Homo sapiens: one gene and its partners. The protein of the gene in region 3 purifies or fractionates together with the protein of the main gene of each other region. This does not show direct contact. Each region holds a gene or a part of one and is shown on either strand. Other genes may lie near its edges.

Region 1 (7,695 bases), about 47 Mb from region 3:
TTTTTTTTCTTTCTTTTTTTCTTTTTTTTTTTTTAGGGGAAAGGGTGGTACATAAGGACTTCTTAGTAACTTTATTGAAGTGAAAATCATGACCCTTATACTGCAATTTTATGGAAGCATTAAAAAATTATCTTGTCACTAATTTGCATTATTGTAAGAACTACCTCAGATTTTTGTGAGTAATATGAAAGAAAAAGTCTAGTTTCATAAACAGCTACTAAGTTCTAGAATGTGTTTTGAAACCCAGGAGTTTGGAAGAATATATTATTAGTTTAATGTTTTATTAAAATATTTAACATTTAAGTTCAAAACTAAAAAACAATATTTGAAAAATTAAATTGAATTGCGTTTAGCATTTTATGAAAAACTATACATGATAGCCCTCCAAACTTCTTTCCTTAAAGCATCTTGTGACCTACATCTCCCTCATCTTTTCTACCCGCTGTCTACCTTCTGCCTCCACTGATTTTTTTTCCTTTCCTTTCCTCTCCCATCACTTAGGTAAAGCACATCTCTGTGTCCAGCCTAGCTCATATTTTCCTTAGTCCAGTGCAGACAAGTCTATGGTCATTTGCAAAATCACATTCAGTATCACTTTGCTTATTCCCTTAACCTTCACTTTTGTTGTTGTTGCTTACATTATTTTGAGAAGAAAAAGCAGAAAAAAGTAGAATTCCCCTCTGAATTATCTTGAAAGGAAGGCATACACACACACACTCCTGAAGAAGAGTTATGTTGATTTTTCTTCTGATTTTCTTAAAAAGCACAAGTTTGAGTATACTGTGTATTAGAATTTCACATATTAGTCAAAATGTTATGCATTATAATGTCTGTGCATTTAAAAAGTAAAATAGAAAGAGAAATGATATTGCTAATAGAGTGGGAAAAATTAGTCAAATTTATTATTTTCTGAAATAACTGTTTCCCTGACTAGCCAATCAACTTCCTTTAAACACTCAATATTTAATTCTCATGTTATATCAAGAAGTTTCAAAAGATATTATAGAGATGGATGTCAGCTACAGCCAGAAACATTTCTTTTGATTAAAAGTTTTGAAGATAAATGCATACAGAATATGATGACTGTTAAAGTGCTTTTTAATCATACCACATAATTAAAGATAGTTTTATTAAAACAACAAAAACTGAACATCGCAAACAATGCCATGAATCTCTGTGGAAAAGAAAGTCAAGTTTTATTTTCCTTTGCTTAAAATAATTGGAGAAAAGCAACTTTTACCTATACTTAAAAAAAAAGGGAGAAATAGTGCAATGACGAACTCTCCTGTGTATCTTATTATTATGGAAGTCCCATAATGTATATTCTATTATGTAAGTGTCTTTTATTCCCAGAGTATATGTAATTTTGAACAATTTAGAAACTCTGTACCTCTATCCAGTGCTCTTTTGAACAGTTTTCCAATTATTTGATTCCAAAGTTAATTATATTTATTTGCATGTTGAATGATTTTTTTATAATGTGTATTTCAAATGAATCTATAAGGGAATTGGAAAGGTACAGTTATTATCTATTAATAAACTCTTGCTGACCACACTTTTTCCTCCTCTTTTTAAAGAGCAGGGGTTGTTTTATTTTAGATATTACAGATGAATGGCTTTAAGTCTGTCATCAAAATACATTGTTTTTATATTCAGTGGGCACTGTATTATATATTTTATTCACTATTTGAATTTACACAAGGAACTGTAAATTCAACGCTAGGATTTAATGTTAAAGGTTGATGAGCTCTGAACTTTTTTAACAAACAAGAACAGAGCAGTTTTGCCCGAATTGCACAGAGCATCTGCTGTGTGTCCAGAGGACTTTTGGTCGTCATTCCCCAAATGGGCAATAACTGCGATTATGAGCGCTTCACAGTTTTTTTTTTTTTTTTTAATTCATCTGTACTCAATCCAACAGTGACCCACAGATATTTCCCTACACTTATTTCTTTGTGGTAAAATCCAATGAACAACTTTTCGTAATATCATTTTCAAAGCCATCTTGTAAAATATAACTAAAGAGGTTTCAGTGTTCTCTGTTACATCAGAATAAAGTTCTTCTGTTTTATTTCGAAGACTCCTTTTTTAAAAAATTCACAGAAAGGTCAAATCCATTCCAAATAGAAATCTCATTGCTTAGAAATATTTCTTAGGATCTCGAATCACTCTTTTTTTGTCTTTTAAATTCTGTCATCTGCCTAGATTTAACTGAAATAATTTTTATTTCTCAGTGTGTTAGCTAAAGGCATCCATTCAAAGGTAAGAACATCATAAAAGGTGAATGGAATTAATTTCAAAGTATATATTTGGCATTTTTAAAGAGCTGCATTTCAGCATCTGGAGAGCTGCAATTTAGGCTATCAAATCTACAACAGAGAAGCTGGGGGAAATGTGAACACCCTTATGAGGAGGGTCAGTCCTCAGCAAGTGCATTTTCGGTTCCAACCTTCAAAGGTAACATTTTCAGCTTGATGGGCTCCTGGTGGAATATATAATTTGCCTCTTTCATTCTTAGCTTCGTTGAAATATAGAAGACTGGATGTCTACCAGGCCAAAGTATAAACTCACCATTTATCTATTAAAGTCATATTTAATGAAAACGAAGAGAAATTATGACCCAATTCACTCTCTTTCTCATTACAATTCCTAAAGAACTTTGCCGGGCACATTATCTCGTAGACATCATGATCAAATGTTATTGTTTGCTTTATTATCTCAGTTGGATGGTTGGCTAGTCTAGAATGAAATAGGTTGAAGGCAATACTCTCAGCCTAGAAGTCTGAATGAGGTTCCCATTCAAATGATCCTGATTGTTTGCGGGTGGGGCGGGGTGATTAGTAAACCAACTGAGCTTACACTGCATAGTAAGCGTCTGGATGCCGCACATTTACATCTAACAAGAGACCCCAGAAAACGTGTGTGTGTTTCTTAAACCTTATGTTCCGAACAAAAGGCTATCTCAGCAACAGACAATCAGCACTGCATTGCTCCCTGGGATGCGAGCAACACACTCAACTGCACATTTCATTCTTCCTCGGCTCCCAGCACCACAAAGCCCCTACTCTCTTCCCACTCCTGGGTCCCCAGATTACTCCATAGAGGGGGGTTGGGAAGGCAGAAGCCTAACGTCTATGCCTGCGCACCAGCCGCCGACACCAGGGCCCCCCGGGCGCTGCTTTCTCCAGCCCGAGCCGCCTGGGGGAGGTAGGGAGGGGAGCCAGGGAGCGCGAGAGGGGACCGCACACCTAGACACTTAGGATTTTATTTATTCACAGGGAGGCGGGGGAGGGGAACTGGGCGAACGCGAATTTTCTCCCCGAAGTTGCCTCTTCTAAGCAGATCAAGTCGTTTTCTGGCTGGTGCTGGGGGCCCCGGGGAGGGTGCCGGTGAGGTCCAGGCTCTCGAGACCAGATCCCGTCCCGTGCGCAGAGGGGGTGGGGAAGGGCGGACGGGCCGCAGCTGTCGAGAGGGCCGGGAACCGGCAGGGAAGAGCCCGCGGGCCGGGGAGCAGCGCGGCTCTGTCCCGGGCCCTCCAACGCAGGCCGGGGAGCGCAGGGGCCGGCTGGTCACGCGTGGGAAAGAAAGCCCCCTTCCCCCTACGGCGCTGCTCCCCTTTCCCCAGGCTGGGCCGCCAGAGAGTGCGTGCAGGGAGAGCTGCGAGTCCCCGCGCGCGTAATCATGACCTCGGGGCCCCCTCCGGGCCGCGTGAGCGCATCGGCGAGGCTGGGCGGCCGCCGCGGCCCCGGCCGTGTAACATGACCCGAGCGGCCGGCCGGCCGGCGCGGCGCGGCCATTGAGCCCTCCCTGCCCATGAATCTCTGGCGCGTCTCTAGCTCGCTCGCCGGCTCGCCTCCCGCCTCCCTTTCTCCCCCTCCAGCTCCGCGGGCTCCGTGCGCCTCTCCCTCTCCCTCCTGGTCCTCCCGCTGCCCGTCTCTCTCCACTGCCCGCCTCTCGCCACTGCCTCCCGTCTTCTCTCCCTCACGGCAGCCTCCGTCTCTTTCTCCCTCTCTCCTTTGAAAACTGATCTTTGGCTCTTAGTGTGAAAGTGATTTGAATTTGGCTCTGCGGCGCTCTGCGCCTGCGCCCAGCCTCTGGCATGCTGGCTCCTTCCAAGCAGCTGTTTTGGGTTTGAAATTCCAACATGGCAGAGGCTGCAGTCCGTCTTCCCTTCAAAAACTTGGAATGATTTCAAATCATAGGCACCTTCACTTAACCCTAGCTTCCATTCATCAGCAAACACATCGGATCGATGCTACGCTAACCTATCGGGTTCTCTCTCCGCGCGTTCAGGTAAGAGGAGCTTCGTAGTTTTCTACCATCTGTTTAAATTTGTTTTTGTTTTATTTTTAAAGAATATAAATACATCCAAGACCTGTAATTAAAAGAGATCTTCAGTTGTGCCGTAAACATTAAATTCAATTTCCACTCGTTTCTATTCTGTACGCCAACCTGCTGTCTAATTTCTCTGTTCAAAGTAGCCCTGAAACATTATAATGCATATTTTTGCTGCTTAATCATTGTAACAATAGTATGGGATTAAGAGTTCGCGATTGCAAGAATCTCGCTTTTCGCTATATTGGGCTTACTTATTACTATCTTTTTACTTCAAAAATAAAAAAATAAGAAAGCGGAGCCATAGGGTGGGGCTAGACTTTCTTCGGGAACTAACTTCTAAGTAAATAAGAAGTGTAAATAAGAATCTTGCACACACACAAAAAGTTGAGGTTAAATTACAATCTCGTGGCTGGGGGAACGAGAAAATGTCAGAAGATCGGTTGCAGAAAAATGTAAGCACATCATCTAGGAGGGGGTACAGCGTGGTGGGCGTATTGTTGGCAAGGAACGGGAGAGAAAGATGTATAATTTAATGGTATATACAATCCACTGATCCTATTACCGTCCTCCCCGGAGCTCTTGTTAGTTTCAATGGGAGTGAGTGAAATTGACATGGACTTGCATTCCTGGTCATGTGCTTTTTTTCCTTTCTTTCTTCTCCTGTGATCTGAGATCCCCTTTTTGTTGATGTTGCTTTCCCCCTTAATTATATGCATGTAGGTTAAATGAATACCTGACGAAAGGGCCCACGTTTCAAGGCAGTGACATTTGATAGCTGAGAGGAAAAGTGGCTTTAATGAAAAGCAACCTTTGGAATTCCTGCTTGTGAGAAATCCAATTCAGCTTTTTGTGCTGCCAGCAAGAAATGATCAGTAGCACCAGTGTTTATGGTATGTCAGTTTTGGAATTTACTTCCTTTGCATCTAAATAGGAAAGACAAATGAAATAGCATGATAAAACCATTGAAGACTGCCTGGCAAGCAGTTGCTCATGATATAGAATTCCTTTTTTTAAAAAATATATGTTTAATGTCACCATGCTTTTTTTTCTTTTGCTATCACTTGTTTGTATATTGCAGTTTTGATTAATATATTACTTGAATCCACTTTTATCGGTTTTAGCTGTCATCCAGAAGTTGCACGTTACTAGTAATGCACTATATATATATAACTGCTGAAGTCAAATAGTATGTAAATTAGTTAAACTCAGTGTGGGTTTTTTTTTTTTTTTTTTTTGAAGGAGGGAGGCTGGGCAAAGGGGAGAGGGCAGGAGTGTTGGGAAAGATTACTAACTAATGAAAGTGTATCTATATATATGTACACACACAGGAACAGGACTGGATGAAAATTTTATTTTTCTCAATCTATTAATGCAGTTTGACTATCTGCTCTTGATGTTTGCACTTTGTGGAGTAATCAGTTCTTCTGAGTGTGGTTTTTTTTTGGGGGGGGCGGGTAAGTGAAGAGGTGTCTTTTACATGAAAATAAAAATTATATTTTGATTGTCCAAAGTCCTTGATGTCTTTTAAAGAGTAGGGATAGGTTTTTCTTCCCCCTTTCCATTCACTCGTCTGCCTGTCAGCGCTTTTTACTTTTAACTTGTGACAGAATTAAATAATCAGGCACTGAAATTGACTTCGTTTGAAATCGCTCTTTCCTTTCTTTACAAAAAAAAAAAGTCAGTTAAATGGAGTGAGAGGGGATTTTCAATAGCTCTTGTGGCAGTGCCCTGTGTACACTTTGTAATATTCAATTAAGACAGAGGGAACAACAACAACAAAAAGATGTTAAAGTATTTTGCATAACCAAAGGATATGTCCACTTTAGACTGTTTTTTTTTTTTTTTTTTTTGGTTGTTGCTATGTTTACCCCATGACCGTTAATTCCTCCTGAAAAGAGAGAAAGAAGGAAAGAGAGAATATGAAAAAAGAAATAACAGTGGGGCAAAGCTGCCAGGGGTCTGTAGTGTGGCCGTGGTCACTGCTCTCTCCTAACACAAATGTGAATACGAAGAGAGGAACTACAAGACCCGTTGCGCGACATACACGTCTGGTTGGACTCTGGTGACTATTGAGCTAAATACACACCACACTTACACGATAGGAAAGATTTGATTGAATTTTGCATTTGGAACTTGTTGACTTTGAAGCGATCAATAAGAAGACTGTTTATTTTAGATGCACATAATTTGCCCTGAGAAATGTTTTAAGGAGGAGAGAGCACAGCTTTTTTTCCCCCGGAGCTGTTGGAGCGAATGGGATTGCCAGATGGGCGATTTCCCTCTGTGATGTTAAAGCTGTAATATATATTCAGAGCAGATTGGGCTGCTGCCTGTGATGAGGAGGATATTACATTTATAAATTTTAAATCGGAGCTCGGACAATGTGCTGAGAGCAGAAATTGGATGGTTTGACTGTTCACCGTATTGATACTTAAATGTGATTTCTAGGTAGTACTAATAATAATCATTGCAATAATTCATGAAAAACATACTGGCATAGGCAATTATATAATTCATGACATTTAACAGCAGATTTGAGTGTGTAAATTGCCCCCCTCTTAAGTCTCTGCTTACTATTAAATAATAGTCACATAATTCATTTCCCTATGTTTAAATGTCCGATGTGCAAATGATGTTAACTTAGGAGCCTTGTTATCATATATTAGAATTCTAGGGGTGAAAGTTTACATACATATATATAAAGTAGACACTTGTGTATATGTATAAAGTGGCGTTACTGGCTCTTGTTTTCTAATTCTTTACTCTGATTATTTTTAGATTTTGTTTGTCTCAAATGTGCGGCCTAAAGGAACCAGAGCTACAAACCTAAAAGACTAGAAAGTGGGCAAGTGCTCACACTCTGGCAGCTCTGCTGTTGCAAATTAAAAGTGTGTTGTGGTCAGGAAATGAAAGCTACAATGTCTCTTTTGAACAAGTCGTTTATCAAGAGAAACATCTATCAGGGACTGCCTTGTCACATTGATCCTCTAAAAGTTAGGTCCGAGGTGGAAGCTGCTTTGATGTTTTTGATCCTAAATTTAATACAACAGAAAAAAAGCAAGGATATTTTGACCAGTATAGATTTTTAAAAATGTTTCCTGGAACCAACAAGATCTATTTATTAGGATTTCACTATGTGTGAAGTTTTCTGGACGTAACAGTTGAAAGGTTGAAGGGGAAATCCCAGACTTTATAAATTGATGATTGTTAGAATATACATTTATAATATATTTAGTGATGGCTGGCTTCTTGGTGCACATGGAATGGACGTTTTGAACACAGATTGTTCAAAAGGAAAATTATTTTGAAAGATTATTTTGGAAGAATATGTAGAGAGTCAAGAGTTTTTCATTCAAA
Region 2 (7,848 bases), on a different chromosome or scaffold from region 3:
CATCACCCTCAGGTGTTGGCCAGGAAGTGGGACCTATAGGGGGGACCTGCAGTTATGCCTGCTCTGAGGAGTGCACATACCTGGGACCAGACCCTCATTTCCATCCTCTCAGCCAAGGGCAGGGCTGGGACCTCAGTCACTCTTGGGAATCTCTGGGAGACCGACGCAGATCTGGCCGGGCTTTAGGATCAGTGGTGCCTCCAGCCCGCTGGGTGACCTAGAGAATTTCTTGATTACCTCACTTGTCCTATCAAAGTCATGCCCAGTTCCAGAACTCAGAGTTGGGTGGGTGGAGCTGGTGGGAATCCCTGCAACAACAGCTACACACATTTCCATGCCCTCTGGATGCCCCCTTCCCTCAGTATCTGTGGCGCCTCGAGGCTGAGAAAATGCGGCTGGCGGAGGAAGAGAAGCTTCGGAAGGAGATGAGCGCCAAGAAGGCCAAGGAGGAGGCCGAGCGCAAGCATCAGGTGAGCTGAGAGCCTCCAGGCACCTTAGGTGTCCACTTGCTGGCTTGTCCCCTCCCCGAGGCTGGCTTCTCATCTGTCACCCGGTGCTGCAGCCTTCCTTCCATCCTTCAGAATGGCCACACTAGACCCACTCAGCCAGCATTGCCTGAGCTCTCGCTGGGCACCTGGTCCTGTGCCATGCAAAAGGATGAAGGGCTGTGGTGGCTCCAGAGGAAGAGGCCCAGGCCCTCAGCAGCCCCTTTCTAGTTGTTGAGATAACACCCTGGTAAAAGCACAAGCCAGCTGACGGCACGAGGGTGCTACACTGCCCAATAGAGAGCCACCAGCCACAGTGGCAACTGAACACTTGCAGTGTGGCCTGTCCGAATGACACAGTGCTTTAAGTGTGAAATACTAGATTTTGAAGATTTGGTGGGGGAAAAATGAATATAAAATATCTCAGTATTATTTTTATAATATGGATTACATGCTAAGTTAATATTTGGGAAATATTGAGTTAAATATACTGCTAAGACTAATCCCACCTATTCCTTTTTGCTTTTTAAAACGTGGCTACTATATGGGTGGCTCACATTGTATTCCTATTGGGCAACACTGGTCTAGAGCCTCAAGCCAATGGCCGTGGGATGTCTGGGTTGGTGTGGTCCCCATGGAGCAGGCTCCTGGAGGAGGTGGCTCCCTGAGAGCCCTGAAGGACGGGCAGGATTGTTATTTGGCTTGTTGAGAGGCCTCTGAGTGGTCCAGAGGTGGGGAAGTCAGAGGCTCCATTCTTCCCAGCGGTCAGGAGGTGGGGACTGAGGCCCTGGCTGCTGCAGGGGCTCCCCAGGGAGAGCTTGTTCCCTGAGGCTGTGGCACCGGGGGCTGACCCCGTGTCTTCTGTGTCACCCCAATTGCCCAGGAGCGCCTGGCCCAGCTGGCTCGTGAGGACGCTGAGCGGGAGCTGAAGGAGAAGGAGGCCGCTCGGCGGAAGAAGGAGCTCCTGGAGCAGATGGAAAGGGCCCGCCATGAGCCTGTCAATCACTCAGACATGGTGGACAAGATGTTTGGCTTCCTGGGGACTTCAGGTGGCCTGCCAGGCCAGGAGGGCCAGGCACCTAGTGGCTTTGAGGTACCAGGCTAGGGACAGGGGCTCCAGAGGCCCACACACACCGCTTGTGTTGATCCTCCCTCCTTCTGTGCCCTTGGCCTTAAAGCCCACCCAGTCCCTCTGAACAGTGGGGAGCAGAGATGAACTGGGTCCGGGCTGCAGGTCCCAGGTCCTGTCCCTCTCCAACGCCCTTCTCAAGTTTTTTTTTTTGTTTTTTTTTTTTTTTTTTTTTTTGAGATGGGGTCGTACCCTGTTGCTCAGGCTGGAGTGCAGTAGCGTGATCACAGCTCACTGCAGCCTTGAACTTCTGGGCTCAGGCGATCCTCCCACCTGAGCTTCCTGAGTAGCTGGGACTCCAGGGCATACCTCTTGTCTCCTTCAGGACCTGGAGCGAGGGCGGAGGGAGATGGTGGAGGAGGACCTGGATGCAGCCCTGCCCCTGCCTGACGAGGATGAGGAGGACCTCTCTGAGTATAAATTTGCCAAGTTCGCGGCCACCTACTTCCAGGGGACAACCACGCACTCCTACACCCGGCGGCCACTCAAACAGCCACTGCTCTACCATGACGACGAGGGTGACCAGCTGGTAAGGCCTGCCTGTCACTAGGTCACTGCTGGGTGGGGCCAGGGCTGGGGCTATGGACTCTGCTGCTGGTGGTGGCCGTAGGTGATGAGGGTGGTGGGTCCCTGGGGGCCAGGGACCAGGTCTGACTATAGTCTTCACTGCGGTGCCCAGCCTGAGGGCTGACCATGCGGGAGGGGGTGTCTCCAGCCCACTCCCCAAACCGCCAGGTCATTTTGACAGCTTTAGCAATGTCCTCCGCTCTGGCCTCTGACATGCGCGCTCTGCCCCAGGCAGCCCTGGCGGTCTGGATCACCATCCTCCGCTTCATGGGGGACCTCCCTGAGCCCAAGTACCACACAGCCATGAGTGATGGCAGTGAGAAGATCCCTGTGATGACCAAGATTTATGAGACCCTGGGCAAGAAGACGTACAAGAGGGAGCTGCAGGCCCTGCAGGGCGAGGGCGAGGTGAGGCCAAGGTGCCCTCTGGATGATGTCCCTCCCAGGCCGACAAGGAGGGCCGCTGGCATCACCAGCCTTGGGCTCCTCTGCAGAAAAAGGATCCTATAATTCATCTCTGCCTCACCGACCCCTGCCTGCCACCCTCCTTTGTCTACTTGTGGGAACAAATGTGTGCAACTTTTATAAACTGTAAAGTGCTGACCATAACTGAGGGGCCTCATGGCAGAGCAGACAGGGGCTTTGCAGTTGGAGCCAGCTCCCGTACTATGTTTTTCTGAGTCTCAGTTTTCCTGACTGCCAGTTGGCTAGTGGGGGTGCAAGGGTAGGGGTGAGCAGGTGGACGGTGGCAGTGTGGGGGACACCCTGTAAGCTTCACGTGGAAGCGAGACGGTTCCCCGCAAAGTCTTGCTGTCGGGGGTCTCGACATTGCTTTCTGCTCAGCCACTTGACCCTGATCCCTGCTGGTCCTGCAGGCCCAGCTCCCCGAGGGCCAGAAGAAGAGCAGTGTGAGGCACAAGCTGGTGCATTTGACTCTGAAAAAGAAGTCCAAGCTCACAGAGGAGGTGAGGGCAGACGCTGGGGGTCTGGCAGCCCAGGGGTGGCTGCCTTAGGTGGCCTAGGCTGGAGCACAGCTGAGCTGGGGGCCCACGGAAGCAGGAGCAGGAGTGGACACTGTCTGTCCTCAGGGGTCTTGGCTGGCCAGGGACAGGACAACATGAGTGGGTTGGTGGGCGATCAGGCAGACAGGAGTGTCTGAAGAGGGTGGGATCTCAGGCCGGGGGTGGGAAGGGCTTCCTAGCAGAGGGCACTGAGCAGGGGAGGCCGGTAGCGGCACAGCTGAGAGGGAATACACTTCTAGCCGGGCACAGACCCGAGGCACTTGGTCCAAGGACCTTTGAGGCATGGGAGCTTTCTGTGGAACAAGAGTGCTCATGGAGCATGAACAGGATTAATTTATTTGAATTCATTCTTCAGTCACTTTGCCTTTTCTGGGCACTGTCCCAGCCCTTGTGCTCTGGGGTTGTCCAGGCTGGTGTGTGTGTGGCAGGGGAGGATACACTGGAGAGGCAGACACAAACCAAGGCATTCACAGCCTTGGGGGCCAGGCCCCCATCCCCACATTTGCACATGCCAGTCCCTCTGCCTGAAACTCCTCCTTTCTCTGCCTGGGGTCACCTCCTCCAGGAAGCCTCCCCAGCTCCTCCACTGCAGAGTCAGGGGCTCCCACTTCACCTCTGCCCTTGTCCTGTCCCCACCTGAGGCACAAATCCAGCCTTGCAGGTGTGTGGCCTCAGATTTGAATCCCACCTCTGCCGCTTAGTATTCAAGGGACCCAGGGAAGAAAATGCCCACTCCGTGGGGTCCTGGGAAGAAGGCAGAAATGGCAGCCGAGGGTGTTCAGTGGTGCTCCCTGTCTGCACCACCCACTCCTGCCGCTCGCCTCTCACTCACCCTACATCCTCTGGGCAGAGCTCGGGGCTTGTGCTGTGGGCTGTGTGGGATGAGAGAGGAGAAACATCTCATAAGAACTGGTGTGAGGCTGGTCACATCGGGGCTAAGGGTGTTGGTGACAGAGTGGTGGTGACTGGTGGTTGGAACCTGGAGTATACTCCAGGTGCCACAGTTATGTTGGCGGGGGCACCCCAGAGAGATAGGGGTCCCGCTTGGAGTCAGAGGATCATGTCCCTGTCCTGGCTGAGAGGACCTCCCTGGGGTGGGGTGTGGGGTGCAGGGTATCGAGGAGGTGGCCAGAGGAGCTCTGTCCCCAGAAGTGGGTGGCACCGGGCCAGTGTGCCCCTGCTGTGTGGGCCAGTTATTGGCCCAGCATCTGCTGTGCACGTGGCAGGGGTAATGACAGTGATGGGGAGCCCAGTTCTTCTGCTCACTCCTTAGATTCTGTTTTCTGGGGAGCAGGCAGCCTCGGGTGCTGGTGCCCTGGCTGGCAGGGGAACACCCCTAACTTTACCTGCCCTGTCCTCTCCCTCTGGCCCAGGTGACCAAGAGGCTGCATGACGGGGAGTCCACAGTGCAGGGCAACAGCATGCTGGAGGACCGGCCCACCTCCAACCTGGAGAAGCTGCACTTCATCATCGGCAATGGCATCCTGCGGCCAGCACTCCGGTCAGTGCCGGGAGGCGGGGACACCAGGGCCTGAAAGTCTTTTGGTGGCTGAGTGGTGCCTCTGTCAACCTAGCAAGAGATTAAGCCAAGCAGGCCTGGGTTTGGCTTCGCTGCTAGCTAGTTGGTGGAGTTAGGACCTTGGTGGAGTTATTTCATCTTTCTAAGCCTCTGATTCCTTGTCTGTAAAGGGGGAATCCTAAAACAGGCATCCCTTGGAGATATTGCAGGTTCAGTTGAAGGCCACAGAAATAAATATCACAATAAAGAGAGCTGCAGAAATATTTTGGTTTCCCAGTGCATATAAAAGTCATATTTATACTATACTATAGTCTATGAAGTATGAAATAGCATTATGTCTAAAAAATGTAGACATCTTGATTAGAAATTAATGCCAAAAATGCTAATGGTCATCTGAAAGTTGTATCTATTTGCTGGAGGGTCTTGCCTTGATGTTGATGGCTGCTGACTGATCAGAGTGGTGGTTGCTGAAGGTCGAGGTGGCTGCGACAATTTATTAAGATAAGACAACAGTGAGATTTGCTTTCACACAAAATTTCTCTGTAGCATGCAATGCTGTTTGACAGCATTTTACCCACAGTAGAACTTCTTTCAAAATTGGAGTCGATCCTCTCAAACCCTGCTGCTGCTTTATCAATTAAGTTGATGCAATATTCTAAATCCTTTGTTGTCATTTCAACAATGTTCACAGCATCTTCACCAATAGATTCCATCTCAAGAAACCACTTTCTTTGCTCCTCCATAAGAGGCAACTCCTCATCCACTGAAATTTGATCATGACATTGCAGCAACTCAGTTCCATCCTCAGGCCCCACTTCTCATTCTAGTTCTCTTGCTATTTATTTCCACCACATCTGCAGTTACTTCCTCTTGAAGTCTTGAGCCCCTCAGTCATTCATGAAGTTTGGAATCCACTTCTTCTAAACTCCTATTGATGTTAATAATTTGACCTCCTTCTACGAATCATGAATGTTCTGAATGGCACTGAGAATAGTGAATACTTTCCAGAAGCTTTTCCATTGATTTTGCCCAGATCCACCAGAGGAATCACTATCTATGGCAGCAATAGTCTTATAAAATGTATTTCTTAAATAAGACTTGAAAGCCAAAATTACTCCTTGATCCATAGGTTGCAGAATGGATGTTGCATTAGCAGGCATGAAAATAACATTCGTCTCCTTGTACATCATTTTTTTTTTTTTTTTTGGAGACAGAGTCTCACTCTGTTGCCCAGGCTGGAGTGCAGTGGCGCCATCTCAGCTCACTGCAACCTCTGCCTCCCGGGTTCAAGCAATTCTCCTGCCTCAGCCTCCCGAGTGGCTGGGACTACAGGTGCCCACCACCACATCCAGCTAATTTTTGTATTTTTAGTAGAGACGGGGTTTCACCATGTTGCCAGGCTGGTCTTGAACTCCTGACCCTGTGATCCACCCACCTCAGCCTCCCAAAATGCTGGGATTCCAGGTGTAAGCCCCTGCAGCCAGCCTCTTGTACATAATTTTTAAGAGCCCCAGAATTTTTGGAATGGTCACTGAGCATTGGCTTCAATTGAAAGTCAGCAGTGCATTAGCTCCTGACAGGAGAGTCAGCCTGTCTTTTGAAGCCTTGAAGCCAGCCATTGACTTCTCTCTAGCTATGAAAGTCCTAGATGACATCTTCTTCCAATAGAAGGCTGGTTCATCTACATGGAAAATCTGCTGTTGAGTGTAATCACCTTCATCAATGATTCTAGCTAGACCTTCTGGAAAACTTGTTGCAGCTTCTCCACCAGCACTTGTTGCTTCACCTTGCACTTTTATATTTTGGAGACAGCTTCTTGCTTTGAACCTCATGAGGCGATCTCTGTGAGCCTCCAACTTACCTTCTGCAACTTCCTTACCTCTCTCAGCCTTCATAGAATTGAAGAGACAGTCTTCCTCTAGATTAGGCTTTGGCTTAAGGGAATGTTGTGGCTGGTTTGATCTATTCAGACCCCTAAAATTTTCTCCATATCAGCAAATAAGGCTGTTTCACTTTCCTATCATTTGCATGTTCACTGGAGTAGCATTTTTGATGTCCTTCAGGAACTATTCCTTTGCATTCACAAGTTGGTTAACTGCTTTGCACAAGAGGCCCAGCTTTTGGTCTATCTCGGCTTTCAACATGCTTTCCTCTCTAATCATTTCTAGCTTTTGATTAAAAGTGAAAAATGTGCGACGCTTCCTTTCACTTGAACACTTAGAGGCCATTTTAGGGTTATTAATTGGCCTAATTTCAATATGAATGTGTCTCAGGGAATCAGGAGGCGTGAGGAGAGGGAGTGAGATGGGGGAATGGCTGGTTGGTAGAGCAGTCAGAACACATCTAACATTTATCAGTTAGGTTTGCCATATTCTATGGGCACGATTCATGGTGCACAAAACAATTACAATAGTAACGTTAAAGATTAGTGATCACAGATCACAGCAAATATAATAATAAAGTTTGAGATATTTCTAGTATTGCCAAAATGTGACAGAAACGGGAAGTGAGCACATGCTGTTGGAGAAATGGTGCTGGTAGACTTGCTCCATGCAGAGTCGTCATAAACCAATTTGTAAAAAATGCAATGTCTGCAAAGTGTAATAAAGTGAAGTACAGTAAAATGAGGTGTGCCTGCAGTAGCTACCTCATACATAGGCTTGTGGGAAGATAAAGCTATGAAAACTGTGTAGCACCAGACCTGGAGCATAGTAAGCGCCCCGTAGATGGTAGCTTTGATCATCATCATCCAACATGCATTTCCTGCTTTAACCCCGCTGCCGCCAGCTCACCTCCAGTCACCCACCCTAGGCCCACGGTTAAGGTTACTGTGCCTGGGAATCCTGCAAGTACCTCCTTCCCCACAGGGCCAGGAGAGGCCTTTACCCAGGTCCCTGGGGTTTTGGGGAGTTGAAGGGAAGACCCAGGAGTCACCAGGAGCCACCAAAAAATCAACTCAGCTGATGAGAGGAGGGCTAGGACTTTTCTGAGAACAGTCTCTGCATAGGACAGGTCTGTCGGGAGAGCTGATGCCATGAATGTGTGCATGCTGGTTGGGAGGACAGCAGGATGAGGCAGGGACCAAGCCCCACTTTCCTGATGGGGAAACTGAGGTCCAGAGTAGGG
Region 3 (7,848 bases):
CCTCAGCAGAGCTCGAGCACTGTGCTGGGAGATCCACTGCTCTCTTCAGAGCCGGCACGCAGGAATGTTTAAGTCTGCTGAAGTTGTGCCCACAGCCACCCCTTCCCCCAGGTGCTCTGTCCTAGGGAGATAGGGGTTTTATCTGTAATTCCCTGACTGGGGCTGCTGCCTTTTTTTCAGAAATGCCCTGCCCAGACACTGGACATCTGTTTTTAAAGTTACAAACCTTTTGATAATACAAGGCCAAAAACTCTCCCCAGTAACACCCTGAGGAAGTACTGTGAGGAGAGGAACAGAACTATCCTGTTTGTGTGTCTTCATTCTTCTTTCAGTGACATTTCAGTGACTTGGCTATCTCTTCTAAAGATGGGTTGCATTAATATCAACATATCAAAACAAATAAATGAAGCTGCAACAAAGTGCTTGTTAGTTTGAGAGTTTCTGAAAACACATAAAATAACCATTATGATTTATCAGTGATATCATTTCTTTATTTTTATATCTTAATATAAATATTTTATTTTTAGTCTTATATCTTGAGAATATAGCATGTACAACTTGCAGTTAAGTCCTAGTAATCATCGAACCCAACTAATGAATTTTAGTGATTTGAATTCAAATCCAGAAAAAAAGGGATATGCTTCCTTTATTACCCTAAACTGTATTGTTTTAATAAGATGCTCTGAGCAATACTGTATTTTAGATAAATATTTGAAAGGTATTTGCTACCTACTTTGAATGTTGCAAATGCAAATGTGTTTGGCTGCAAAGTAAATGGAATGCTAATTATATATTGCCACCTAGTGGTAATGTATGTCCTAACATCAGCAAAAAAGGAATGGAGTTAATGCCGTGGTTCAAATATTTTATTTCAGTTGGAATATCATTGGAATCAATGCAGTAATTCGGTGTAATACTTCCATAGAACAGTATGTGTTTAAAAAAAATTACAGTAATTTTTTTTCATAGTTCTTTCAATCTTTGCAAAAGTAAGTCAAAAGTACTTTATATTGAACTTCTATATAATTTGACACATTTATATTAAAAATAGGTTCATATCAAAACTTGAGATATTCATTGTTTACTGTAACAGTTGAATTTGTATCTAATAAACACATTTTGTTTTCTTATGGCCCCAACGTTACTGAGCTCCCAGTTCTGGAATGAGAAAAAAAATTCTTAATAAATGTTTTTATTAAAAATTTAAAATTCGTATTCAAAAATTAAAAATTACTTTTAAAAATTAAGGGAGTGTGTGTGTGTAGATATATATGGTATCGAAGTAGAAAACAAAATGGCCCATAATTCTATCCATAAGCCCTATTGTTTTAAAAAAGGTCAAAGTATACAAGAAAATGTATTAGAAGAAAAAGGAAAGAAACCTCTAGCCAAGTTTCTTGGTTATCTATTTCTCAGTATATCTCTTCCTAAGATAACCACTGTTTCACTATGAATTGTTGCCTATATTTGTAGAAGAAAAAAATGGATGAGCCAGCATTTGCATATTTAACTAATTTGAGTTGCCTCAATTTGATGAGGAAATAATATGAAAAAGTTTAAACTGTTTCACTAACTGCAACTAGCCATGCTTTTTCAACCCCCACTTTCCTGCAGTTCCCTTAAAGACTCCTTCATAAGTTTCTCTCAGTCTTTCTTTCATAACTGTCAGCCACTTTCACTCACTAAAATCATCTCATTCTGCTTATTTAAAACCTATCCTCTTCATTTTAAATGTTTTCTCCCCCCTCACCACAAGCGTGTGGAAGTAGTGGAGAGGGAGATGGGAGAGGAAGATTGTTCTCTTTCATATCTGCCCTCCTTGCTGAGCTAGGATGTTTTCACTCACTGTATCTATAGCCTGGTGGTAACAATTGTTAGGTTTTTGTTTGCTTGGGATTTTGTTTGATTTTGTTTGTTTTTGTTGTACATATTGGTGGTCTCCAGAGACTGGCAGTAAAGGCTGTAAACCCCCTCAGCTCTACCCCTACCTTCTGAGTATGTTCAAATGAAAGCACAAGTGGGTGCCCAATTCTGCCAACTGTGCAAACACTTTAGGAAGAAGATACTCTTTAGACACACATACATACATACATACAGTCTCCTACCCTGTTTTTGTAGCTCAGAGAAAGTCACATTGCCCTCAAGCCCTTCTTAGACTTTATTCATCAAAGAGTGGGAAAGCCCGTACCATCTTCCAAACCTCCAGCCCATCTTTACCACTCATTCCACCAATGAAAAACCATTTTCTATCATTCCTTAATAATAACAAATTCTCTGGTGTAGATTTTGATAAAGTTCCTATATGAAAAAGAGGCACTTCAGTGCTGAGTACCTCTGAGTGTTGACTCCTGCTTAGAGTACTTCAAATACATCACTTTGGGGCGGGGGTTGGAGGGACCTGATGTTTGTTACTTCAAATGCTAATTAACCATCCCTAGTGTATAGACTGAAGTTAGATGACAGACATGCACAGGCACGGCACACTGCTTCTGCTTAACTACTTTAAAATTAAATTTCCATATAGATAAACACGATAATTTCTAAACTGGAAGGGACTATTTATTTCACAGATGAAAAATTTTAAGAACAAAGATTTAGTGTCGAAAGCTACCTGATAACATTTGTTAGGGCTAATGTCGTCTCATTACTACTTTCTTCCAGAGTTTCATTGGCTCTTTGTGCTAATATCATTTTGTTAAGTTTCACCAAAAATTAAAATGTTTTAACTTAAATAGGATCATATCAAATTTATAGGCTAATTTAGGGATGATTGAGATGCACTTCAAAATTTCATGTGACAAAACATCTAAAATAGCAAGGACATTTTTCTTCCCTATCATATTTGCTGCCCACTCCCCTCCCCCCAAAAAGGGAACATTCTCAGAGGTCAAACTACCAAAGATGGTTACTTTCCTAAACTGACTTCCCTCTGTGATCTTCTCCCCTACTTGCTGGTTCCTGAGGCTTCCCCTTTTGGTCTCTGATGAAAAGGGTGGGGCTTTGATGACCCTGCTGTGCCATGTCTATGACTATGCATGCATCTGGGGCCAGGTGATGTGGAGGACAGAGAAGTAAAGCAATGGGGGCTTATAACCCCCTCCTAAGACTGCAGTTCCTCCAATCTGTGGGGAAATTTCCCTCCCTCAGAGTTTAGGCTCCCAGGGCTCCCCTTGTCTTCGCACCTGCTCCCAGCATGAGATTGCTTTGTAGCTTGGGGCACAAGAGAACTGAGAAAAGGAAAATAAAGAAAAATGGAGGGTTAACCCATTCTCTCTGATATTAGGAGTTCTCTTTGTTCAGACAGCACTAGAGGGCTTCTTCTGGGTCTCTATAAGCCTACTTGTGCCTACTTTTGGGTTTTGTGCTGTACTGAGTTCAGACCGGGGAATACCAGAGAGAAAAAATGGTAAACTCACCATTGGTTTGGTGCTACTTCAGATTCCTGTCCTCTTCCCCTTTTTGCATGTTACTGTTTGCTTTTCAGAGACCTCAAATAGCTGCTGTATCCTGTCCAGGTTTTAGAGCCACATTTTGAGGGAGACACAAGGTGCAGAGCATGCTTGCTCCATCTTACCTGAAATCAGAACTGAAAGTAACTTTTTCTGAGAAGCTCAACTGAGTCTATCCGTAGGGATTGAATGAACTATAATTCAGTGGGGTTCTATGCAAGTATTACAAAGAATGTGACTACTCTGTGTGCTGTTATGGAACCATTGTCAAGATGTATTGTTAAATAGCAAGCTGTAGAATATTTATACATATGTATATTTATGCTTATGTGTACATAAAATCTAGGAATACACACAAAAAAATGGTAACCATGGTGATTTCTGAGGAGAACTAGAAGGCTGGGAGACTGAGGAGATGGAGACCTGACTGACACCTCTTGTACTATTAATATTTGCATGTATTGGCCAGTTGCAGTGGCTCACACCTATAATCCCAGCACTTTGGGAGGCTGAGGCAGGCTGATCACCTGAGGTCGGGAATTGGAGACCAGCGTGACCAACATGGAGAAACCCCGTCTCTACTAAAAATACAAAATTAGCCAGGTGTGGTGGTGTGTACCTATAATCCCATCCCCTCGCGAGGCTGAGGTAGGAGAATCACTTAAACCTGGGAGGCGGAGGTTGCGGTGAGCCGAGATCACGCCATTGCACTCCAGCCTGGGCAAGAAGAGCGAAACTGTCTCAAAAAAAAAAAAAAATGTACATGTATTATTGACTGTGATAGATGAAACCTACTTCAAGTAGGCCTGGTGACACATTAAGAAATAAACCAAGGAAGGAGATGATGGGCCATTTGAGTGTTGGCTTAGTCCTTTCTCTGGGCTAAATGCCCTAAAAGCCAGCAGTTCTTGGCTTCTTTGACCCCAACTGCTAAAATACTCACCTTAGGGCCTGCCTCCATGAGGAACTAGGGAGATTTCAGATAGCCTCAGCCATACATTTGTATTCTTTCATTTTATGAATGTATTTGTCAGTTCCATTGTTAAGTGAAGAAATTTAATGGAGGGCTAATCTGTGAACCGTGACTGTTCTATAAATAGATATTATATATGTATAAATACATATTTTGTGTGCATGTATATTTTTTTCAATGTACCATTTTTAAGTATACACCAATACCTGGTTCCTTTCAAATTATTTGGGGCATGTATTTTTATTTTTAGGCTAATTCACCTAAATAAGATTGATCCTCATGCTCCAAATGAAATGCTCTATGGGCGAATAGGCTACATCTATGCTCTTCTTTTTGTCAATAAGAACTTTGGAGTGGAAAAGATTCCTCAAAGCCATATTCAGCAGGTACCACGTTTTTGTGTTTTTAGGAGCCTTTTTAGGATCCCATTTACTTACTATCTGCCTAAACTATTGTTTATGTCTCTGTAGTTAGCACATTCCATATAAAGGAAGGTGTATCTGGACCTCTAAAGGTTGGGCACAGTCCAAGAACCAATAGCTTTCTACGGAGTGCTGTTGGAAACATTTCTGTCTCAAGAGTCCGAAGGCCAGTCTGCTCCATTTCAGAATTTAGAGGCCCTCTCCAAAGAGGATTAGAGCCAAATTTCACCTCCCAGATGGAGGATCTCCTTTGGTGGTGCCTAGAGGAGTTTATGCTTTTCTTTGACAGGCGAACTCTTGTAAACTGTAATGCAAAGAGCTCAAGATCCTCTACGCCCTCCCCCTTCTAGGCTAAATACAGTCCCACACACTTCTCTGATGGAGAATTAAACTGTGCCTTTCCCTGGCTATAAGCTGGTGTCTAATTTGTCATGTTCCCCAGTACCTCTTAGCAAAAAAGTCTTTACCTCCTCCAGGAAGATTTTTGTTCAGTTAACTTGTTATTTTGGTTGGTTTTCTCCCTGTAGATTTGTGAAACAATTTTAACCTCTGGAGAAAACCTAGCTAGGAAGAGAAACTTCACGGCAAAGTCTCCACTGATGTATGAATGGTACCAGGAATATTATGTAGGGGCTGCTCATGGCCTGGCTGGAATTTATTACTACCTGATGCAGGTAAGGAGTGATTATGGTGAAATTTTAAAATGTCCTTCCTGACCCATGTACTATCATGGGTGAGAAAACAGATATTCTAGTTCTAGTTTGTCATTCTGTCAACCACTGCATTACAGTACTCTCCTTGTAATTACTTGTCCTAGACAAACAAAAGTAATGTTTACGAAGGTGCCTTTAAAAGTGTATAAACATTAAAGGCCCTGCGTTTTAAAATGATGTTTGATTTGCAGGTGATCGTGCTTGCCCACTTAGTGCCACTTGTGCAGACTAAAGTGTTTTGACTTATAATTCTGTATGAAGTGCCTCTGCTCTGCTCTTTCAGCCAGTGCTTTGAATTAAAACTATTATTCCACATTAAAAGGTACAACTGATTCCAACAAATTCCAGGAATAAGAACAAAATCAATAGAAAACAAATGAGCACTTGTTGCCTAATGCTCACTTAGAGAGCAAAGCTGAGGAGACTTCTACTTACCTGAAAAACAGCTGAATATGCTCTGCCCTACAGTTCTTGGGATCTAATACTATTGGGGCACATCAACCAAAGTCAAATAGACTAAAGACAGATAGAATTTACTGCAGCAGACATAACTTGGGAGAGATCAGAAGAGGACTTCTCAGGAGAGCATCATTTTGGGAGACTTACGAAGCTCTCCTTAAGGAGAAACTGGCACTTCTGAATAAGAATTCATGGCAAAGAAAATTGATTTTTAATGGCAGCAGAGGTACCCCTGTCACCTTCCCAAGGCACACTGTGGCATAAAGAAAAGTGTTTCATTAACGTGTTCAGCAGGAGTGCTTGGATATACATACTACCAGCTCTTTGAGTAGCTGGCTCTTATAATACAAGATCAGTGTTGGACCTGCCCTCTACCTATAAATAAACAAGGACAACAGAACTGAAAAACTCAAGATTATTATTATTTTTGAATGCAGAGTCACACATTGAGTGTTAGTGGCAATCAGAGACTAGCGTATTTATTCTACACTTTTCAATTAGAGGTTATATAATTAGGATGTTGACATTTAGACTTAAATTTCTTTATTTTTCTGGTGCATGTCTTCCTCTCTATTCCCAGTAGTAAATGTAGATTCCTAAAAGCTTTCAGGAAAGAAGAGTCTTCTGAAGTTTCAAGGTTAGTTAGAATCAAACATACTAGAGGCCCTCTCCAAAGAGGATTAGACAGCCTTATCGAAATTTCATTGAAACAAATAATCAGGAGACATAGTTGGTTAGTGACTAGACAGCCTCATCAAACTTTCATTGAAACAAATAATCAGGAGACATACTCTGCCTCCTTGTGTTAGCTGTAGTAAGAAATCTGAAAACCCAAGTATTGATTTTTCCATTTGCAGGTTATCATCTCTTTGAAATGATTTAATTTTTAATCCTGAAAGTCTATTCTAGTAGGTACGCCTTCATCAACATAAAATAAAACATCATTATTTTTAGGCCATGTTGGGTAATTCCTGCAAGTTTGAGGAGAGTCCACTCATTCTACTGTAACACTCTGAGCTTAAATGCTATTCTTTGTATGAAATGAAATCTGCCTTCTAAACAACTCAGTCCACTTTCAGAATCTTGTGGAAGTCATATTGTCAGCATTGCTTTGACCCCACCACGACCGCCTCCTGCCTGTGCTTCACACCACTGCCCACCCCTCACCACCACATGCCCCACACCTTGCCTAGTGAAACAGCACTTTGAATCTGTTAAAGACATTAGCAGTCATTGAATTAAGAACAGGACCAAAAGGAGAAACTAAAATGTGTATCAAAAATGGTGGCTCATATGCTGTATGTCAGTATGTCCTATGGATCTGTACGTTGTTATGTCAAAATAATGTGGCATTTAGATCAGTCCTAAATCCTCTGCAAAAAGACTTGATCTAGAGGCATGCTGTAGTTTGGAATCTAGATTCCAGGTCTCTTAACTTGTTAGTATCCTTTTTCTATTGAAAATACCACCTATCTCTTCTCTAAATGTAATAACGAAAGTCATGCTTGGTTTGTCCAGTGCATCTCTTTGTGACTTTTAAAGCTTGTTTTATATATTGAAACCATGAGAAACTTCTCTTACACTCACATTCATAGGCATTGACTTAGGAAAATTATTTATATGTATGTAGATAGCAATTAATATTGAAAAACAATATATACAAAATGCCGAGCACAGTGGCTCATGCCTGTTATCCCAGCACTTTGGGAGGCCAAGGTGGGCGGATCATCTGAGGTCAGGAATTCAAAACCAGCCTGGCCAACATGGTGAAACCCCGTCTTTACTAAAAACACAAAAATTAGCCAGGCGTGGTGACAGGCATCTGTAATCCC
Region 4 (8,180 bases), on a different chromosome or scaffold from region 3:
ACTGAATGCTAGCCTGGGCGACAGAGTAAGATCCTGTCTCAAACAAACAAACAAAAAACAAAAAGAATGACTTAATGTTAAGTGTGGTAACAGACCATGGTAGTTTTGTAACAAAATGAGCCCTTATCTGTTAGAAGAAAGGATTCAAATATTTATAGGAAAATACTGTGACATCCAGGATTTGTTTAAATTACTCCAAAGAAAATACAGAAGGAAACAGCGCTGGGATAAATGTTGATGATGGTTGAGGCACAGTGATGGGTAAACAGGAGTTCAAAATAAATGCTAATTATTCTGTGCAAGTTGGAAAGCTTCCCCCCAAAAGAAAAACAAAATTCCAAAAGAATGTCCAGAGGGTTCCAGGAGGCCTGAGAAGAGGGCCTGGATGAGAAGAGGAGCTTAACGATTCATGGAAAAGACAGGAGCTATTGGTCCCAGATGACTTTTGTCAGGGAAGTTGAGCCAAATGTTGACACATTTTGGAATTTTATTTTCAAGAGGACCTCCCGGATGTTTACATGGAATCAATTGTCCAGCATTTCACATAAAAAAAAAATAAAGTTCACGCCAAAGAAAACATGTTTGTTGGTTGAGTCTGGCCCAGAGACTGTACGGTTGAGAACTTTGCTGGTGTAGGCAAGACCACGGGTCTGAAATGCAAGGACTCAAGTCCAAGTCTCAACTTCACTTTTTATGTTTTATTTTTATATTAATAGAGATAGGGCCTCACCATGTTGCCCAGGCTGGTCTCAAACTCCTAGGTGCGAGTGATCCTCCTGCCTCGGTCTCCCAAACTGCTGGGATTACAGGTGTGAGCCACTTGCCTGGCCTCAACTTCTTTTTTTTTCAGGGGGGACAGGGTCTTATTCTGTCACCCAGGCTGGAGTTCAGTGGTATGATCACTGCACCTCCCAGGCTCAGGTGATCCTCCCACCTCAGCCTCCCGGGTAGCTGGGACTACAGGTGTGTGCTGCCATCCTCGGCTAATCTTTTGTTTTCTGTTTCCTTTTTTTTTTTTTTTTTTTTTTGAGATGGAGTTTTGCTCTTGTTGCCCAGGCTGGAGTGCAGTGGCGTGGTCTCGGCTCACTGCAATCTCCACCTCCTGGGTTCAAGCGATTCTCCTGCCCCAGCCTCCCAAGTAGCTGGGATTACAGGTGCCTGCCACCACGCCCAGCTAATTTTTTGTATTTTTAGTAGAGATGGGTTTCACCATCTTGGCCAGGCTGGTCTCGATCTCCTGACCTCATGATCCGCCCGCCTCGGCCTCCCAAAGCGCTGGGATTACAGGTGTGAACCACTGCGCCCAGCCATTTTTGTATTTTTTTTGGAGACAGCGTCTTGCTCCGTTGCCCAGGCTGGAGTGCAGTGGTGCAATCTCAGCTTACTGCAACCTCTGCCTCCTGGATTCAAGCAATTCTCCCACCTCAGCCTCCCAAGTAGCTAGGATTACAGGCAAACACCACCACGCTCAGGTAATTTTTGTATTTTAGTAGAGATGGGGTTTCACCATGTTGGCCAGGCTGGTCTCGAACTCCTGACCTCAGGTGATCCGCCCACCTAGGACTCCCAAAGTGCTGGGATTACAAGTCTGAGCCACCACGCCTGGCCCAATGTTTTGTATTTTAGTAGAGACGAGGTTTCACTATGTTGCCCAGGCTGGTCTCGAATTCCTGAGCTCAGGCGATCTGCCCGTCTTGGCCTCCCCAAGTTCTAGGCTGTGCCAGGGTTCTGATCCAGTTCCTTCCACTTGGATCATTGCTCTGGCCTCCTGCCCTCCCCCTCAAAGAAGCCTAAGCTCCTTTCGCCTGGGTGCTGGGGGACCCTGGGGGATCATGAGAGCCCCGTGAAGGAATTCTGAGAGTGCCTGGGGAAACGACAGAAAGTTTGAGGTGCCCTACTCATTTGCAGGAACCCCACGAGGGTTCTGGGGGCCTCTGAGGGGTCATGGGAGTCCTAGGGAGGTTCTGAGGACCCCCAGGGGATCATGGGACCCTCACGAGGACTTCAGGGGTTCCTGAACAATCATGGGAACCCTATGGGACATTCTGAGAGCTAGAGAGATCATAGGAGCCCCGTGAGGGTATTGTGAGGGGCCATAAGTAATTACAGGAAGTCCTGATGTGGCTGGGTGCAGTAGCTCACGCCTGTAATCCCAGCACTTTGGGAAGTCGAGGTGGGTGGATCACTTGAGGCCAGGAGTTCGAGACCAGCCTGGCCAACATGCTGAAACCTTGTCTCTAGAAAAAGTACAAATATTAGCTGAGAGTGGTGGCGCGCGTCTCTGGTCCCAGTTACTTGGGGGGCTGAGGTGAGAGGATGGCTTGAGCCCAGGAGGTTGAGGCTGCAGTGGTGTGATAGCGCCAGTGCACTTCAGTTTGGGCGACAGAGTGAGACCCTGGCTCAAAAAAAAAAACAAAAAAAAAACCCAACCCAAACCGGAAGTCCTGATGTATTCTAGGCTCCTGAGAGTTCCGATGAGGTCACATGAACCCCACGAGTATTGAGGGGTCCTATGGGATCACGGGGGCTCCATGGAAGTTCTGAAGGTCTCTGGGTAATCAAAGGGATGAAGGGAGTCCCTCAGGAGGTCTGGGGTGCTCTGGAGGCCCATGGAAGCCATAGGATGTTTTGAAGAGTCGTGGAAAGACAATGGGGGTTGTGGGTCACTGGAGCCTCACAGGAATCCTAAGGGGTCTGGTGGGTGGCGTCAGGTTCTGAGGGGACCCTGAGGAATCACGAGAGCGTCTAGAGGAGTTCAGGAAAACCGCGGAAACACTACGAGGAGTTCAGGATCAAGGGGCAAGAGAACCAGTGGGGAAGACCGGAACAGACTAAAAGGCTGCCACCGCCAAGGCTCAAGGGAGCGTCCTACAGGGCGCGATCCTATTGGGCGGCGGGAATCACGGGGACTAAGAGAGGCGGAGCGGCTGAGCTACCGCAGTGGATGACGGGACTCCCCGCGAAAAACCGGGCGCCCAGGCCTGGGGAACGCAGCGAGCAGCGCCGGCCGGGCAGACTCTCACCAGTGCGCATGCGTGGCTCTCCGGCACCGGTCCGTACTCCAGCGAGGTGAAGATCTCGCGGGCGCGGGGCCCTGCACGCGTCGCAGCCATCGCCTACCCCGAACGCTTTCCGCGAAGACTGCGGGGCGCTCTGTGTTAAGGGGAACCTTGAGGTCCGAAGAGCGACACCTCCGGTTCCAGCCCAAAGGGGCGGGGCTAATGGGAATGGGGTGGGGCTACAAGATACAGAGAGCAGCCACGCCCACACTTTTTCCTTAGGACCCGATGGCCCCGCCTACGTCCCCCACGGGGAAGCGTATTTAGGAGCATGCGCACTGCTTAAAACGGGGAGGAAGGGGAGACGGCGATGTGGGTACTTTGCGAATAGTTAGGAGGGCTCCGGATTTATGAGGATCGGCGTGGCCGGGCACGATGGCTCTTGGCTGTAATCCCAGCACTTCGGGAGGCCGAGGCGGGCGGATCACCTAAGGTCGGGAGTTCGAGACCAGCCTGACCAATTTGGTGAAACCCCGTCTCTACTAAAAATACAAGCATTAGCCGAGCTGTGGTGGTGCGCGCCTGTAATCTCAGCTACTCAAGAGGCTGAGGCGGGAGAATCACTTGAACCCAGAAGGTGTACGTTTCAGTGAGCCGAGATCGCGCCACTGCACTCCAGCCTGGGTGGCAAAGGGAGACTGTGTCTAAAAAAAAAATAGTAATAAAAAAAAAGGGTCGTCCTATTGATGCGTCTTCCCAGTGCCTTGTTTTATAGTAGCAGGAAGTGCAGGTTTTGTTTTACCTTTTATTTTCTTGAGACAGGGTCTCCCTCTGTCGCCCAGGGCTGGAGTGCAGTGGTCCGATCACGGCTTACTGTCGCCTCGACTTTTCAGGTTTAAACATTACTCCTGCGTCAGCCTGCACAGTAGCTGGGACTACAGGCAGGTGCCATCAAGCCTGGCTAATTTTTTTTTTTTTTTTTTTTTTGGTAGAGACAGGATCTTGCTATGTTGCTCAGGCTGGTCTCGAACTCCTGGGCTCAAGCGATCCTCCTACCTCGGCCTCCCAGCCTCAAAGTGCAGCTTTTCTAATTATATTGACTAGAGGTCTAGATCTAGATCTAGACCTGGCGGGTCTAGATCTGGACGTATTAGGATCTAGAGCTGGCAGGAAGTGATAATTCAAAGATAAAAAGGGTACCTTTTAGGATGGACATTGAGATTAAGGTTTGGAAAATGCAACCTTCACTGCAAAGTAAGGGGGCCAGTTTTGGTTGTGGAAAGAGTGGAAGTCTGGCGCTTTTTTTTTTTTTTTAAGAGATGGGGTGTGGGACGTTATCTCATTGTATTGCCCAAGCTGGTTTCGAACTCCTGGCCTCAAGCGATCCTCTTGCCCTGGCCTTCCAAAGTGCTGGGACTACCGGTAGGAGCCACAGCGCCCAGCCGGAAGTGTGGCTTTCATAGATACAGGAAGTGTGGCACTCAGGGATCCGCCTTGGGGTTTATTTTTGATTGATGCGAGGGGCGTGGCTTGTCGATAACGCGATACCAGCTTGTGAATGAACACTGGGGTACTCGGAAGTGTGGCATACTCCAGTCCTGTGTTTACCGATAGACCGGAAGTGTGGCTTCGTTTACAGTTCGGCACGTAGGACGGAGGGTAGTGCGTCTAGAGACACATATTCCCCACGGATTTGACGATGGTGTTCGGTCTTGAATGGAAATGTAGTCTTAGGCCAGTCTTAGGTTTTTGAACAGGATAGTAGGTATCCGGAGTCGATTGAGGGCCAGAGCAGGCACTGGGGTTCGGATCCTGGGCAAAGTTTCCCACGTTGAGGGTCTCGAGGACGCCTAGATCTCTTTCCCAGGGCCATGGCGAACCCGAAGCTGCTGGGAATGGGGCTAAGCGAGGCGGAGGCGATCGGTGCTGATTCGGCGCGATTTGAGGAGCTGCTGCTGCAGGTGCAGTGACCGGACCCCTGGATCCTTGAGTATTCGGGGATTTTGGCGGGGTGCTCAAAGATGGGACTGCAGTTCCCAGAATGCACTAAGGCGGGAACCAGGCCTCGGGGAATTGAGGTTAATGGGCTTCAAGTTTGCTAAGAAATGGGAGTGGGGGGCCGGGCGCGGTGGCTCACACCTGTAATCCCACCACTTTGGGAGGCCGAGGCGGGCGGATCACGAGGTCAGGAGATCGAGACCATCCTGGCTAACACGGTGAAACCCCGTCTCTACTAAAAATACAAAAAATTAGCCGGGCGTGGTGGCGGGCACCTGTAGTCCTAGCTACTGGAGAGGCTGAGGCAGGAGAATGGCGTGAACCCGGGAGGCGAAGCTTGCAATGAGCCGAGACCTCGGCACTGCACTCCAGCCTGGGCGACAGAGTGAGACTCCGTCTCCAAAAAAAAAAAAAAAAAAAAAGAAATGGGAATGGGGTTGGGGTTGTTCTTCTAGTTCTCAAAGGAGAAAGGGGACCTAAACCGTCTAATTTCTCGCGTTATCCACAGCTCTCATGCATAAGAATTGCTCCATTTGAGGAACAAATGAGGGGTCTGATGGCACAGACTCCGAGCCTGGAGGTAGTTTTCCTTTATACAGGCCTCGAAGGAGCTCCAGCAAGCCCAGACAACCAGACCAGAATCGACACAAATCCAGCCTCAGCCTGGTGAGAAAGGACACCGGAGAGAGAGGGACAGGAGACCCAGGGAGAGGACAGAGAGAGGAGGAAGGAAAGAGACACGAAAATAAAGGCCTAGGGTGGGGGTGGGGTGAGCAGACACCCACAGAGATCATCCTAGGACAGAAAGGAGTTGGAGGACAGAGTAGGAGTAGGTAGGGGGCCAGAGAATCAGAGATAGGAAGAGGCCAGGTGCGGTGGCACGTGCCTGTAGTCCCAGCTACTGGGGAGGCTGAGACAGGAGAATTGCTGGAACCCAAGAGGCAGAAGTTGCAGTGGGTGGAGATCGCACCACTGTACTGCAGCCTGGGTGACAGAGCGAGACTCTGTCTCAAAAACAAAACGAAACAAACAACAACAACAAAGATAGGAAGAGAGGCTGGGCACAGTGGCTCACATCTGTAATTCCATCACTTTGGGAGGCCGAGGTGGAAGGATTGCTTGAGGCCAGGCATTCAAGACCAGCCTGTGCAACATAGTGAGACCTCATCTCTACTAAAAATAAACAAAATTAGCTGGACTTGGTGGGTGCGTGCCTGTAGTCATAGCTACTCACGAGGCTGAGGTGGGAGGCTCACTTGAGCCAGGTGGAAGAGACTGCGGTGAGCCAAGATCGTACCACTGCACTCCAACCTGGGTGACACAGTGAGACCCTGTCTCAAAAAACAAACAAGGAGAAAACAAAGAAGAGAGGGGGCCGGGAGCCCAGCACTTTGGGAGGCCAAGGCGGGAGGATCACCTGAGGGCAGGAGTTTGAGATCAGCCTGGCCAACATGGTGAAACTCCATCTCTACTAAAAATACGAAAATTAGCCGGGCGTGGTGGTGGGCGCCTATAATCCCAGCTACTTGGGAGGCTGAGGCATGAGAATTGCTTGAACCTGGGAGGTGGAGGTTGCAGTGAGCCGAGATCACGCCACTGCACTCCAGCCTGGGTGACAGAGTGAGAGTCTGTCTCAAAAAAAAAAAAAAAAAAGAGAAGTGAGGGATCTCGGGTGGGGAGTGGAACAAAAAAGGGGGACAGGGCAAAAGGAAAAGAGACAGAGCCTGGAGACAATGGATGGGGACTGGGACTTGTGCAGAAAAGGATTGTCATGACTAACCCACTCCCACCAGGTTTCTGCATAAAGACCAACTCCTCGGAAGGGAAGGTTTTCATCAACATCTGCCACTCCCCCTCTATCCCTCCTCCCGCCGACGTGACCGAGGAGGAGCTGCTTCAGATGCTAGAGGAGGACCAAGCTGGGTTTCGCATCCCCATGAGTCTGGGAGAGCCTCATGCAGAACTGGATGCAAGTCAGTGCCCTCAGAGGACCCAGGAGTCTGGCCCGCTAGGCCCCTTCTTCCCTAGAACCCAAGAATCCTGGGCCCAGGACCCTCCTCCCTCAGCTCCTGGAGATCTGGCCCCTCGATCTGATTCTTTTCCCTATGGTAGATCTCTAGTGCCCTGGACATCCCACACCCGGGCAGTCCTGGTTCTGCCACCTGGCCAGGCTGGCACTTTTCCATGCCCCACTCCAGGGCCGGGAGGCCTGGGCAGAGTGCTCTTCGTGCATTAGCGGATCTCCTGGCTTTAGTCCTGAGCCTGCTGTCTCCTTCTTTTTTCTTTCTTTCTTTTTTTTTTTCTTGTGATGGAGTTTCGCTCTTGTTGCCCAGGTTCAGACGATTCTCCTGTCTCAGGCTCCCAAGCAGCTGGGATTACAGGTGTGCTCCACCACACCCAGCTAATTTTTGTATTTTTAATAGAGACGGGGTTTCGCCACGTTGGCCTGGCTGGTCTCAGACTCCTGACCTCAGGTGATCCACCGCCTCAGCCTCCGAAAGTGCTGGGATTACAGGTGTGAGCCACTGCACCCAGCCTGCGGCTCTCTCTTTCATCCTGTTTTCTCCTCTGCCCTTCTCCCTTTCTCCATCTCTGTCTTGCCTCACCTCTGTCCCTGTTTCTGCCTCTATATCCTTTTTTCAATATGTCTCTTGAAGCTTTCTGGGACCAAGCTCTAGGCAGTGCCCCGGGGAATAAGGACCTATGAAATGCACATTCCACGTTCCAGAAACTCGCTGTCATGGGTGGGGCTCAAGGAGATGGATGCAGTATCAATAGGGTGTGATTCACGCTGCTTTGGAGGGGGGCACCCAGCACAGCCTTGAGAGGGCTCGTCACCCACATGAAGGGGTCAGGGAAGGCTTCCTGGAGGAGGGGGTGTGGGATAAGATTTGAAGGAACAGGAGGAGTTCAGCAGGCAGACAGAAGAAGGTTCTAGGTAGAGCGGCCCAGAGCTGGGAGAGAATGATTGGATTGGATCAGCCAGTAATGGAGAGTGACTGAAAGAAATTCAGTGGGCCGAGGTTGCTAGAAGAATGAGGTCTTCTCCAGAGGTGGGAGGGGCAGACCACATAGGGTCTCCAACGCCAGGCTTGTGGGGCTCAGACCTTCACTTGGGAGCACTGGGGAGCCAGAGAAGAGCTGTGAGCAGGGAAGGGATAGGGTCAACTCTAGTGACATCAC

What was found.
Region 1: the proteins of LANCL1 (region 3) and FIGN purify together in Homo sapiens (affinity purification with mass spectrometry; 3 studies listed by BioGRID and IntAct, with this or other methods). This does not show direct contact.
Region 2: the proteins of LANCL1 (region 3) and MYO7A purify together in Homo sapiens (affinity purification with mass spectrometry; 3 studies listed by BioGRID and IntAct, with this or other methods). This does not show direct contact.
Region 4: the proteins of LANCL1 (region 3) and ALDH16A1 purify together in Homo sapiens (affinity purification with mass spectrometry; 4 studies listed by BioGRID and IntAct, with this or other methods). This does not show direct contact.

Annotation. Positions count from the first base shown.
Region 1 is NC_000002.12:163,732,436-163,740,130, reverse strand, and holds the start of FIGN (fidgetin), read left to right. Parts: upstream 1-4,122; 5' UTR 4,123-4,293; intron 4,294-5,058; 5' UTR 5,059-5,203; coding exon 5,204-5,228; intron 5,229-6,189; exon of another isoform or gene 6,190-7,695.
Region 2 is NC_000011.10:77,180,012-77,187,859, forward strand, and holds part of MYO7A (unconventional myosin-VIIa), read left to right. Parts: intron 1-362; coding exon 363-470; intron 471-1,368; coding exon 1,369-1,578; intron 1,579-1,939; coding exon 1,940-2,143; intron 2,144-2,412; coding exon 2,413-2,589; intron 2,590-3,056; coding exon 3,057-3,146; intron 3,147-4,576; coding exon 4,577-4,704; intron 4,705-7,848. UniProt on the Homo sapiens protein: Myosins are actin-based motor molecules with ATPase activity. Unconventional myosins serve in intracellular movements. Their highly divergent tails bind to membranous compartments, which are then moved relative to actin filaments.
Region 3 is NC_000002.12:210,438,268-210,446,115, reverse strand, and holds part of LANCL1 (glutathione S-transferase LANCL1), read left to right. Parts: intron 1-3,416; exon of another isoform or gene 3,417-3,574; intron 3,575-4,672; coding exon 4,673-4,808; intron 4,809-5,371; coding exon 5,372-5,518; intron 5,519-7,848. UniProt on the Homo sapiens protein: Functions as a glutathione transferase. Catalyzes conjugation of the glutathione (GSH) to artificial substrates 1-chloro-2,4-dinitrobenzene (CDNB) and p-nitrophenyl acetate.
Region 4 is NC_000019.10:49,448,265-49,456,444, reverse strand, and holds the start of ALDH16A1 (aldehyde dehydrogenase family 16 member A1), read right to left. Parts: upstream 3,221-8,180; 5' UTR 3,114-3,220; coding exon 3,024-3,113; intron 1,532-3,023; exon of another isoform or gene 1,511-1,531; coding exon of another isoform or gene 1,508-1,510; intron 1-1,507. Other genes in the region: PIH1D1 (PIH1 domain-containing protein 1), read left to right, coding at 4,871-4,960, 5,597-5,663, 6,791-6,970.